Regions from separate parts of the Homo sapiens genome. Here all the other regions are linked to region 4. Evidence: fine-mapped expression QTL. A gene starts in region 4. Each other region holds a variant in brackets. All regions are shown on one strand. Distances are between the middles of the regions.

What was found. PIP is the estimated chance that this variant, and not a neighbour inherited with it, causes the effect.
Region 1: its variant is fine-mapped to the expression of KDR in fibroblasts (GTEx, PIP above 0.99).
Region 2: its variant is fine-mapped to the expression of KDR in fibroblasts (GTEx, PIP above 0.99).
Region 3: its variant is fine-mapped to the expression of KDR in fibroblasts (GTEx, PIP above 0.99).

Annotation. Positions count from the first base shown.
Region 1 is chr4:55,187,881-55,190,567 of GRCh38, reverse strand. No RefSeq gene overlaps it. Among named protein-coding and RNA genes, the nearest start is that of KDR, 64 kb to the right of the region's middle. The variant C/T (reference allele first, on the strand shown) is at 1,118.
Region 2 is chr4:55,214,441-55,217,127 of GRCh38, reverse strand. It overlaps the pseudogene RN7SL822P. Among named protein-coding and RNA genes, the nearest start is that of KDR, 90 kb to the right of the region's middle. The variant T/A (reference allele first, on the strand shown) is at 1,067.
Region 3 is chr4:55,209,919-55,212,605 of GRCh38, reverse strand. No RefSeq gene overlaps it. Among named protein-coding and RNA genes, the nearest start is that of KDR, 86 kb to the right of the region's middle. The variant T/C (reference allele first, on the strand shown) is at 1,181.
Region 4 is chr4:55,124,357-55,127,043 of GRCh38, reverse strand. KDR (kinase insert domain receptor) reads left to right here and starts at 1,449. Exons shown (of 30, transcript NM_002253.4): 1 at 1,449-1,817. The coding sequence starts at 1,751.

The DNA.
Region 1 (2,687 bases), 64 kb before region 4:
AGTACTCATTAGTTATTTTTCCTGATCTTCTCCTTCCTTCCACTTTCCACCCTCTGGTAGGCCCCAGTGTCTGTTATTCTCCTCTATGTGTCCATGTGTTCTCATTATTTAGCCCCCACTTATAAGTGAAAACATGAGGTATTTGGTTTTCTGTTTCTGTGTTAGTTTGCTAAGAATAATGGCCTCCAGCTCCATCCATGTTCCTGCAAAGGACATGATCTCATTATTTTTTATGGCTGCATAGTGTTCCATGGTGCATATATACTACATTTTCTTTATTCAGTCTACCATTGATGGGCATTAAAGTTGATTCCATGTCTTTGTTATTGTGAACAGTGCTGCAATGAACATATACATGGATTTGTCTTTATGATAGAATGACTTATATTCTGTTGGGTATATAACCAGTAGTGGGATTGCTGAGTAGAATGGTAGTGCTGTTTTTAGGTCTTTGAGGAATTGCCACACTGTTTTTCACAATGGTTGAACTAATTTATACACCCACCAATAGTGTGTAAGTGCTCTTTTTCTCTGTAAACTCACCAGCATCTGTTATTTTTTGACTTTTTAGTAAAAGCCATTCTGACTGGTATGAGATGGTATCTCATTATGGTTTTGATTTGAATTTTTCTAATGATCAATGATGTTGAGTTTTTTTCCATATGCTTGTTGGCTGCATTTATGTCCTCTTTTGAAAAGTGTTTGTTCATGTCCCTTGCCCACTTTAATAGGGTTGTTTGTTTTCTGCTTGTAAATTTGTTTAAGTTCCTTATAGATATGGAATATTAGACATTTGTTAGATGCATAGTTTGCAGATATTTTCTCCCATTATGTAGGTTGTCTGTTTAGCTTTTGATAATTTGTTTGTTTGTTTTTTGCTCTGCAGAAGCTCTTTAGTGTAATTAGATCCCATTTGTCAATTTTTGTTTTTGTCGAAATTGCTTTTGGCTTCTTCATCATGAAATCTTTGCCCATGCCTATGTCCATGAAATTTCTGCCCATGCCTATGACAACTTAGGTATTGCCTAAGTTGTCCTCCAGGGTTTTTATGGTTTGGGGTTTTACTTTTAAGTCTTTAATCCATCTTGAGTTAATTTAACAAGCATAATTTAGAGAA[C/T]TCAAGAGAGGAAGAAAGACCCACTGTATTTACCCATGTTTTCCTTTATCATGTTCTTTATTCCTGTCTGATGCTCCAAAGTTTCTTTTTTCATTGTTTCCTTTCTATTTAGAAGAACTTCCTTTAGCTAATCTTTTAGAATGGGCCTGCTGGTGACAAATTCTCTTGGTTTCTTTCATTTGAGACTCTGAGAATGTCTTTATTTCTTTTTCATTCCCTAAGATATTTTTTCTGAGTACACAATTCTGAGTCGACTGTTCTTTTCTTTCAGCACGTGAAAAATATTGTGCCAATTATTTTTGGCCTCTATAGTTTCTGATGAGGAATTTACTGTCACTCTAATTTTTTTTTCATTATGGGTATGGTTTTTCTCTGACTGCTTTCATGTTTTTTCTTTGTCTTTAGTTTTTAGAAGTTTAATTATAATGTGCGTTGGCATGGGTTACTTAGATATTTTTATATTGTGTTATGAGACTCTGGATCTTATTTAAGTTTTCTGCTTTACCTGGATTTTTCTGGTACAAGTCCAGCAGGGGAAGGAGAGGAGCTGCTTTGTTATTGCCAGGTGGAGGTACAAATCTAAGTTTCCCACTTGGCCTCTTTTGACACCTGAGGTGGAGACTCCTCATTACTGCTGAGTAGTAGGGGTAGAAATTTTGCCTTTGTACATGGTCTCCACTGACAATGCAGTGCAACTGGCTTATTGCTGTTTGGTGATGGTTGAAGTCTTGACCCCTTTTTCGGCATTCTCTGATACCACATAGCAAAGAGGAAGAGGGTTTTCTCATTACTGTTGGACTGAGGTGGAAATCCAAGCTCCCACATGGCCTCCACTGACCCTGTTGGGGCAGAGGCTTGCTGTCAGTCAGCAGGGATAGAAACCTGGCTTCCTGATTGGCTTTCTGTGATACTACCCTGGTGGGTATTGGGCCAATGTCTTAGTCCACTTGTGCAGCTATAACAAAATAACACAAACAGGCTAATTTGTAGAGAACAGAAATTTATTTTTCACAGTTCTGGAGGCTGAAAGTCCAAGATCAAGGCGCTGGCAGGTTTGATGTCTCACGAGAGAGAGGTCCGTCTGTGCTTCCAAGATGGCATCTTATTGCTGCATCTATGGAAGGGACAAATGCTGTGTCCTCACATGGCAGAAAGATGGAAGAGCAAAAAGGGCCTACCTACCTCTCTGGCCCTTTTATAAGGGATAAAAAAAGTAGAGCCCTTAGGGCTTAATTACCTTTCAAAAGTCCCATCTCTTAATACTTTGCCATGGGGATTGTTTCAATATGAATTTTGGAGGGGACACAAATATTCAAACCATAGCAGCCACTGTGTTATAGCCTCTTGAGGGTGAAGTCTAGGCTCCCCTCTCAGCCTTTGCTGGTATGTGTGGGAGTAAGGTTTTGTTTGTGGTGTTTGGTTGAAGTAGAATGGTTATTGTCTAAAGGTTTTCTGTTTTGCTAGGTTGTCCCTTTCCTGGTCTTTTGGTTAGTGAGAACAGGCTTTTGTTGAGGCATTTAAAAGTCAGAACTCATTTGCATTTCTGGATTGCTGAACTCTTTAGCTTCTT
Region 2 (2,687 bases), 90 kb before region 4:
CTGGGGAATGTAGGCAGCTGATGTGAATATTCCACCACACTTTGGATGACTACTGAAGTGTAGGCAGGGCTGGGGTAGGCATGTGTCATCCCTGGACTTGGTCCAGAAGAGAGGTGATAGATTTTCCTTTGAGTAAACACCACATTCCTAAGCCCCTGTCCCACCATGCTCTATGAATGCATTTACTCTTTTGCTTGTATGTAATATCAATATTTAATTGTAATTATAATCTATATACTGGGTGTGTGGGGTAAGACAACATAGGGACCTGTGTTTCAGGAGCCCAAGTGTGGTTGTGGAATGGGCACATACAAAAATGCACAATAAAATAGCATAACTGACTGCGTGCGGTGGTTCATGCCTGTAATTCCAGCACTTTGGGAGGCCAAGGTGGGAGAATTGCTTGACACCAGGAGTTCAAGACCAGCCTGGGAATCATAGTGAGAACTCCATGTTTCCCCCCAAAAAAAACAGCCAGGCATGGCTGCATGCGCCTGTAGTCCCAGCTAATCAGAAAGCTGAGGCAGGAGGATTGCTTGAGCCCAGTAGTTTGCAGCTGCAGTGAGCTGTGATGGTGCCACTGTACTCCAGCCTAGGCGAAAGAATGAGATATCATATCAAAAAAAAAGAAAAGCATAACTATTAAAATAATTCGGATATTTAGAAAGTGGTAAAAACCACTTTGGAAAAACGTTTAGCAGTACATGCTAACATAAAACATACATCTATCCTGCGACCCAGCCGTTCCTCTTCTGGACATATCCCCAACAGAACTGAGTGCACATGTTCACAAAAAAGATATTTACAAGAATGTGCATAGCAGCTTTATTCATAATAATCTTCAAATGGGAACAGCCCAAATGTCTATTCACAGGAGAATAGAGAAATAAATTGTGGCATATTCATAAAATGGAATACTACACAAAAGAGCACATACTGTATAATTCCGTCTATATAAAGCTTAAAAACAGGCAAATTAATCTATCATGATGGAAGCTATAATAGTGGTTACCTTTAGGTGCCCGAGTATTGATTACAAGTCTGGTGAGATGCTGGGAGTGTTTGA[T/A]ATCTTGATTTGGGTGGTGGTTACAGGTGTGCACATGTGAAAATTAAGCTGTACACTTAAAATTTGTACCTTTTGCAATATGTAAGCCATATTTTCATAAAATAATTGTATACAATGATTACATTAAAAATGAAATAAACTAGCTCAGTGCCGTGGGTGTCTATAATCCCAGCTACTTGGGAGGCTGAGGTGGGAGGATGGCTTGAGTCGAGGAGTTCTGGGATGCAGTGCACTATGCTGATTGGGTGTCCACACTAAGTTTGGCATTGATATGGTGACCTCTGGGGAGTGGGGGATCACCTAGTTGCCTAAGGAGAGGTGAACCGGCCCAGGTCAGAAATGGAGCAGGTCAAAACTCTTGTGCTCATCAGTAGTGGGATTGAGCCTGTGAATAGCCACTGTACTACAGACTGGGCAATATAGCAAGACCCCATCTCTAAAAAAAAATAAGTAAAATAAAATAAGATAAAATAAAATAGTGATATGGTAACTCTGGTGAGGTAACCATAGATTTTTTCTGGGAGAATGAGATACATACACGAGGGACATCTGACCTAGTGTGCTGAAGGGGTTTGAGCCATCTGGTCAAGATTTGGAGGATTTGGACATGAGTCAAGAGGCAGTGTTTGTAGTCTAAAGAGTTGTTTGGGGCCAAAAGTAGGGCAGTGGGAATGGAGAGAGACAGAAGTAAGGGCTTTTCAGAGGTAGAATGAGTAAGAGTCTCAAGTGATTGAAAATGTGTTTGTGTGGAGGGTGGGGTAGAGGGAAACGCTGAGGATAAAGACAATGGCTCTATGTGTTCTTTGTGTGACTGGGTTGCTGATGTTGCTAATAGAGAAGGTTGAAGGAAGAACACATTTGGAGCCTTCTTAAATCACATGATCAGTTGGCTTGACCTGGCAGCAGTCAGAACTAGCATTTACATTAACTAACAGCACTTCATACATGACTTCAATTCTGGTTCATTTTGTTCTACAAATATGGTCTTATAGCATAAAGCCCTTATACTATGTCTGTTTGATGTAGATCCTATGTAGATCCTTTTCAGTGCCCTGAAGAGAAGTTTCAAAATGTTTCATTGTGATGATATTTATACATTTATATATTTTGGCACATTCTGCACTTGAATCTTCTTTAACAAACTCAGATTTATTCTGGAGTATTGTTAATTTTGTGAAGAAATGCTAACGTGAATTTCTGAGCTGTGATTGCAGTCTTCTATCAAATTCAGGAGGCTAGGTACAATGGTATGTATAGGGGCATAGGTTAGCTCTTATCATCTGCTTAAATTTGCTGGGGGTTGCTCTAATTCATCTGACTGTTTATGCCCATTTTGAGTTATTGTAGTTGAGTGCTATGGTAACTTAGGGTGATGTTCACCCAGAGGAGTTTTGGGCCCAATAAAAGCCTCTTAGAGGTGGAAGGTAGCTTGTCCTCTGCTTGTTTACTGCTTCCTGACAAAACTGTTATCTCCCTTTTGTTTAAAACTTAATTAATGTGTTTTGGGTATACATTCCTTTTCATTTCCTCAGTGTTCAGTGTTAAGCTGACTGGATGTTATCTGGTTGTCAGGGAGAGTTACGGTGGGTTGTGGATGCCGTCTGTGCCCTCCCCATCAGCC
Region 3 (2,687 bases), 86 kb before region 4:
AAACTACATGTGGTTTGTGTGTATCATATATCATATACCTAATATATACTACCTTAGAGTATGATCATTCATTTATGTTTTTCTACAAAGAGATTGTAAACTTCTGGTTAGGAGGGATAATTTCTAATACTACTAGTTTCTTGAAAATAGTAATGTGTCTTCTTTTGAGTTATGTTAATTATTTTTAAAAGGCTGGTAGAAAAAATATACTTTTCTTATGTTAGGATCACATAAACTATCATTTCACAAGTACATTTTATTTAATAAAGTTGTTCAAAACTTTGGGTCCGTAGTGGAAGACAGCAGAGAGAAAAGATAAGGATCTCCTTTTTTTTAAGTAGTTTTTTAAAGTTTTTTTATTTTTATTTTTTTATTATACTTTAAGTTCTAGTGTACATGTGCACAACGTTCAGGTTTGTTACATTTGTATACATGTGTCATGTTGGTGTGCTGCACCCATTAACTCGTCATTTACATTAAGTATATCTCCTAATGCTATCCCTCCTCTCTCCCCGCACCCTATGACAGGCCCCTGTGTGTGATGTTCCCCACCCGGTGTCCAAGTGTTCTCATTGTTCAATTCCCACCTATGAGTGAGAACATGTGGTGTTTGGTTTTCTGTCCTTGTGATAGTTTGCTCAGAATGATGGTTTCCAGCTTCATCCATGTCCCGACAAAGGACATGAACTCATCCCTTTTTATGGCTGCATGGTATTCCATGGTGTATATATGCCACATTTTCTTAATCCAGTCTATCATTCATGGACATTTGGGTTGGTTCCAAGTCTTTGCTATTGTGAATAGTGCCACAATAAACATACATGTGCATGTATCTTTATAGTAGCATGATTTATAATCCTGTGGGTATATACCCAAAATAGACAAATGGGATCTAATTAAACTAAAGAGCTTCTGCACAGCAAAAGAAACTACGATCAGAGTGAACAGGCAACCTACAGAATGGGAGAAAAGTTTCACAATCTACCCATCTGACGAAGGGCTAATATCCAGAATCTACAAAGAACTTAAACAAATTTACAAGAAAAAATCAAACAACCCCATCAAAAAGTGGGCAAAGGATATGAACAGATACTTCTCAAAAGAAGACATTTATGCAGCCAACAGACATATGAAAAAATGCTCATCATCACTGGTCATCAGAGAAATGCAAATCAAAACC[T/C]AGTAATGGGATGGCTGGGTCAAATGGTATTTCTAGTTCTAGATCCTTGAGGAATTGCCATACTGTCTGCCACAATGGTTGAACTGGTTTACAGTCCCACCAACAGTGTAAAAGTGTTCCTATTTCTCCAAATCCTCTCTGGCACCTGTTGTTTCCTGACTTTTTAATGATCGCCATTCTAACTGGTGTGAGATGGTATCTCATTGTGGTTTTGATTTGCATTTCTCTGATGACCAGTGATGATGAGCATTTTTTCATATGTCTGTTGGCTGCATAAATGTCTTCTTTTGAGAAGTATCTGTTCATATCCTTTGCCCACTTTTTGATGGGGTTGTTTGATTTTTTCTTGTAAATTTGTTTAAGTTCTTTGTAGATTCTGGATATTAGCCCTTCGTCAGATGGGTAGATTGTGAAACTTTTCTCCCATTCTGTAGGTTGCCTGTTCACTCTGATCGTAGTTTCTTTTGCTGTGCAGAAGCTCTTTAGTTTAATTAGATCCCATTTGTCTATTTTGGCTTTTGTTGCCATAGTTTTTGGTGTTTTAGTCATGAAGTTCTTGCCCATGCCTATGTCCTGAATGGTATTGCCTAGATTTTCTTCTAGGGTTTTCTGGATTTAAGTCTGACATTTAAGTCTTTAATCTATCTTGAATTAATTTTTCTATAAGAAGGAAGGGATCCAGTTTCAGCTTTCTACATATGGCTAGCCAGTTTTCCCAGCACCATTTATTAAACAGGGAATCCTTTCCCCATTTCTTGTTTTTATCAGGTTTGTCAAAGATCAGATGGTTGTAGATGTGTGGTATTATTTCTGAGGGCTCTGTTCTGTTCCATTGATCTATATCTCTGTTTTGGTACCAGTACCATGCTGTTTTGGTTACTGTAGCCTTGTAGTATAGTTTGAAGTCAGGTAGCATGATGCCTCCAGCTTTGTTCTTTTGGCTTAGGATTGTCTTGGCAATTGCAGGCTCTTTTTTGGTTCCATATGAAATTTAAAGTAGGGTTTTCCAATTCTGTGAAGAAAGTCATTTGTAGCTTGATGGGGATGGCATTGAATCTATAAATTACCTTGGGCAGTATGGCCATTTTCATGATGTTGATTCTTCCTATCCATGAACATGGAATGTTCTTCCATTAGTTTGTGTCCTCTTTTGTTTCGTTGAGCAGTGGTTTGTAGTTCTCCTGGAAGAGGTCCTTCACATCCCTTGTAAGTTGGATTCCTAGGTATTTTATTCTCTTTGAAGCAATTGTGAATGGGAGTTCACTCATGATTTGGCTATTTGTCTGTTATTGGTTTATAGGAATGCTTATGATTTTTGCACATTGATTTTGTATCCTGAGACTTTGCTGAAGTTGCTTATCAGCTTAAGGAGATTTTGGGCTGAGACAATGGTGTGTTCTAAATATACAATCATGTCATCTGCAAACAGGGACAATTTGACTTCCTCTTTTCCTAATTGAATACCCTTTATTTCTTTCTTTTGCCTGATTGCCCGAGCCAGAACTTC
Region 4 (2,687 bases):
AATTTAAAGGGAAAAAAGCCAAGGCTCAAATAGCATTTATACCAAGCAATTGTGGGAAGAGAAGGGTGACATGTCTACATACTTGTGTTTAAGAATCTGCTTGGAAAAAAAAGGAAACATAAAAATGCCTCTGCCAAAAGAAAAGTCTTTTCACTCTAAGCCTTTTTGTGTTTTTCCAAAATTTTTTTTTGCCATATACATTCATTATATTTCAGCATTAAAATATTTCACCTGTCAACTTGGAAAAGTAAAAGCGTGAATACAGTAAATATTTAAAAACAGATGAAGATAAGTAACAGGTTACATTAATTGTATACAATCAATCTAGTTTGAATTAGGTGTAGATATAATAATTCTGTGTGTTTATCTTGGTGAAGAATGGTCCTTTAGGTTGTCATTAAAAAGCACCTCTGGGAGGTAAAAGACATAGGCATCTGGAAGATTCATATTTAATGAAGTTAGGGGACATTTGATGTCACTCCCCAGGTGTGGGGAGATATGGACAGAAAACCAGAAGGAACGAATGTGGTCAGGAAGGAATTGGAGTTCCCCTCCAAACAGCTGCCACAAGAAGTCCACACACGTGGAGACAGTTGTGCAATTTGGTCACAGAGTGTCCTAGGTGCTTTTGCTTCATTGCTCCTCCACTGAAGCACGCTGGCAGCTGGCCTCCTTCCCCTGGGACTAAGGATATCTTGGCTGGAAGCTCTGCTCTGAAAAGGGGCATGGCCAAACTTTCACTAGGGCTCTTCGTTGGGGAGCACGATGGACAAAAGCCTTCTTGGGGCTAGGCAGGTCACTTCAAACTTGGAGCCGCCAAATATTTTGGGAAATAGCGGGAATGTTGGCGAACTGGGCAAGTGCGTTTTCTGATTAAGAGCAACCAGATTCAGCTTTTTAAACTACAATTATACTGGCCAAACAAAATACCCTTATACAAAAACCAAAACTACTGGCAGGAGTCGCTGCCAGCTTGCGACCCGGCATACTTGGCTGAGTATCCGCTTCTCCCTTGTGGCTCCAAACTGCTGCAGATTCTCGGCCACTTCAGACGCGCGCGATGGCGAAGAGGGTCCTGCACTTTGACGCGCCTGGTGAGGGAGCGCTGCTCTTCGCAGCGCTCCTGGTGATGCTCCCCAAATTTCGGGGACCGGCAAGCGATTAAATCTTGGAGTTGCTCAGCGCCCGTTACCGAGTACTTTTTATTTACACCAGAAACAAAGTTGTTGCTCTGGGATGTTCTCTCCTGGGCGACTTGGGGCCCAGCGCAGTCCAGTTGTGTGGGGAAATGGGGAGATGTAAATGGGCTTGGGGAGCTGGAGATCGCCGCCGGGTACCCGGGTGAGGGGCGGGGCTGGCCGCACGGGAGAGCCCCTCCTCCGCTCCGGCCCCGCCCCGCATGGCCCCGCCTCCGCGCTCTAGAGTTTCGGCACCAGCTCCCACCCTGCACTGAGTCCCGGGACCCCGGGAGAGCGGTCAATGTGTGGTCGCTGCGTTTCCTCTGCCTGCGCCGGGCATCACTTGCGCGCCGCAGAAAGTCCGTCTGGCAGCCTGGATATCCTCTCCTACCGGCACCCGCAGACGCCCCTGCAGCCGCGGTCGGCGCCCGGGCTCCCTAGCCCTGTGCGCTCAACTGTCCTGCGCTGCGGGGTGCCGCGAGTTCCACCTCCGCGCCTCCTTCTCTAGACAGGCGCTGGGAGAAAGAACCGGCTCCCGAGTTCTGGGCATTTCGCCCGGCTCGAGGTGCAGGATGCAGAGCAAGGTGCTGCTGGCCGTCGCCCTGTGGCTCTGCGTGGAGACCCGGGCCGCCTCTGTGGGTAAGGAGCCCACTCTGGAGGAGGAAGGCAGACAGGTCGGGTGAGGGCGGAGAGGACCTGAAAGCCAGATCTAACTCGGAATCGTAGAGCTGGAGAGTTGGACAGGACTTGACATTTTGCGATCTTTCATTTACCAGTGGGGAAACTGAGGCTCAGAGACTGGCCCAAGATTACCCAGCGAGTCTGTGGTCGCCTGTGCTCTAGCCCAGTTCCTTTTCTAGGACTCTGGTTTGCGACAGGGACCTCGGCTGGAGCATGTCCTGAGATGCCGACACACCCTCAGGCTCTTGGGAGGCTGGGGTGGGAAGGCGCCTGGGGTTGGCAGGCAGGAGGTGCCTCCGCAGGCGAGAACAGGCGGTGAAAAGTTGTCTGGCTGCGCGCAACATCCTAGTCCGGGCCCGGGGAAGAAAACCTTGCCGGAATCTCAGGCCGGGTCTCCCGGATCGGACGGTACACTCGGTTCTGCCTCTTTGCGGGACCCGGCCCGTTGTTGTCTTCATGCTCGAACACACTTGCACACCACTGTGTGAAGTGGGGTCTGGAGCGGAGAGAAACTTTTTTTCCTTCCTTGGTGCAGGACGCCGCTCTCCTTGCAGAGCGAAGAAGGGGGGGAATAGGGACTTGTCCTGGGGGCTTTGACAGCTTCCCCAAGGGTCTCCAAGTAACAGCCAACTGTCCTGCGTAAAGCATTGCACATCTTTCAAAGCGCTGTGGTCCTTGGTGTAAGCGCATAGTCAGAAGTTCAAGCTCCGAAAACCTTTCCTGTGGGCCTTGGTACCTAGCTTTAGTGCCATTCCTTCCTCTCCCTGCCGCCTAAAATTTCCGTCTCCTTCAATTAGGAACACACACGTTCTTCATGCAATAGCTGTC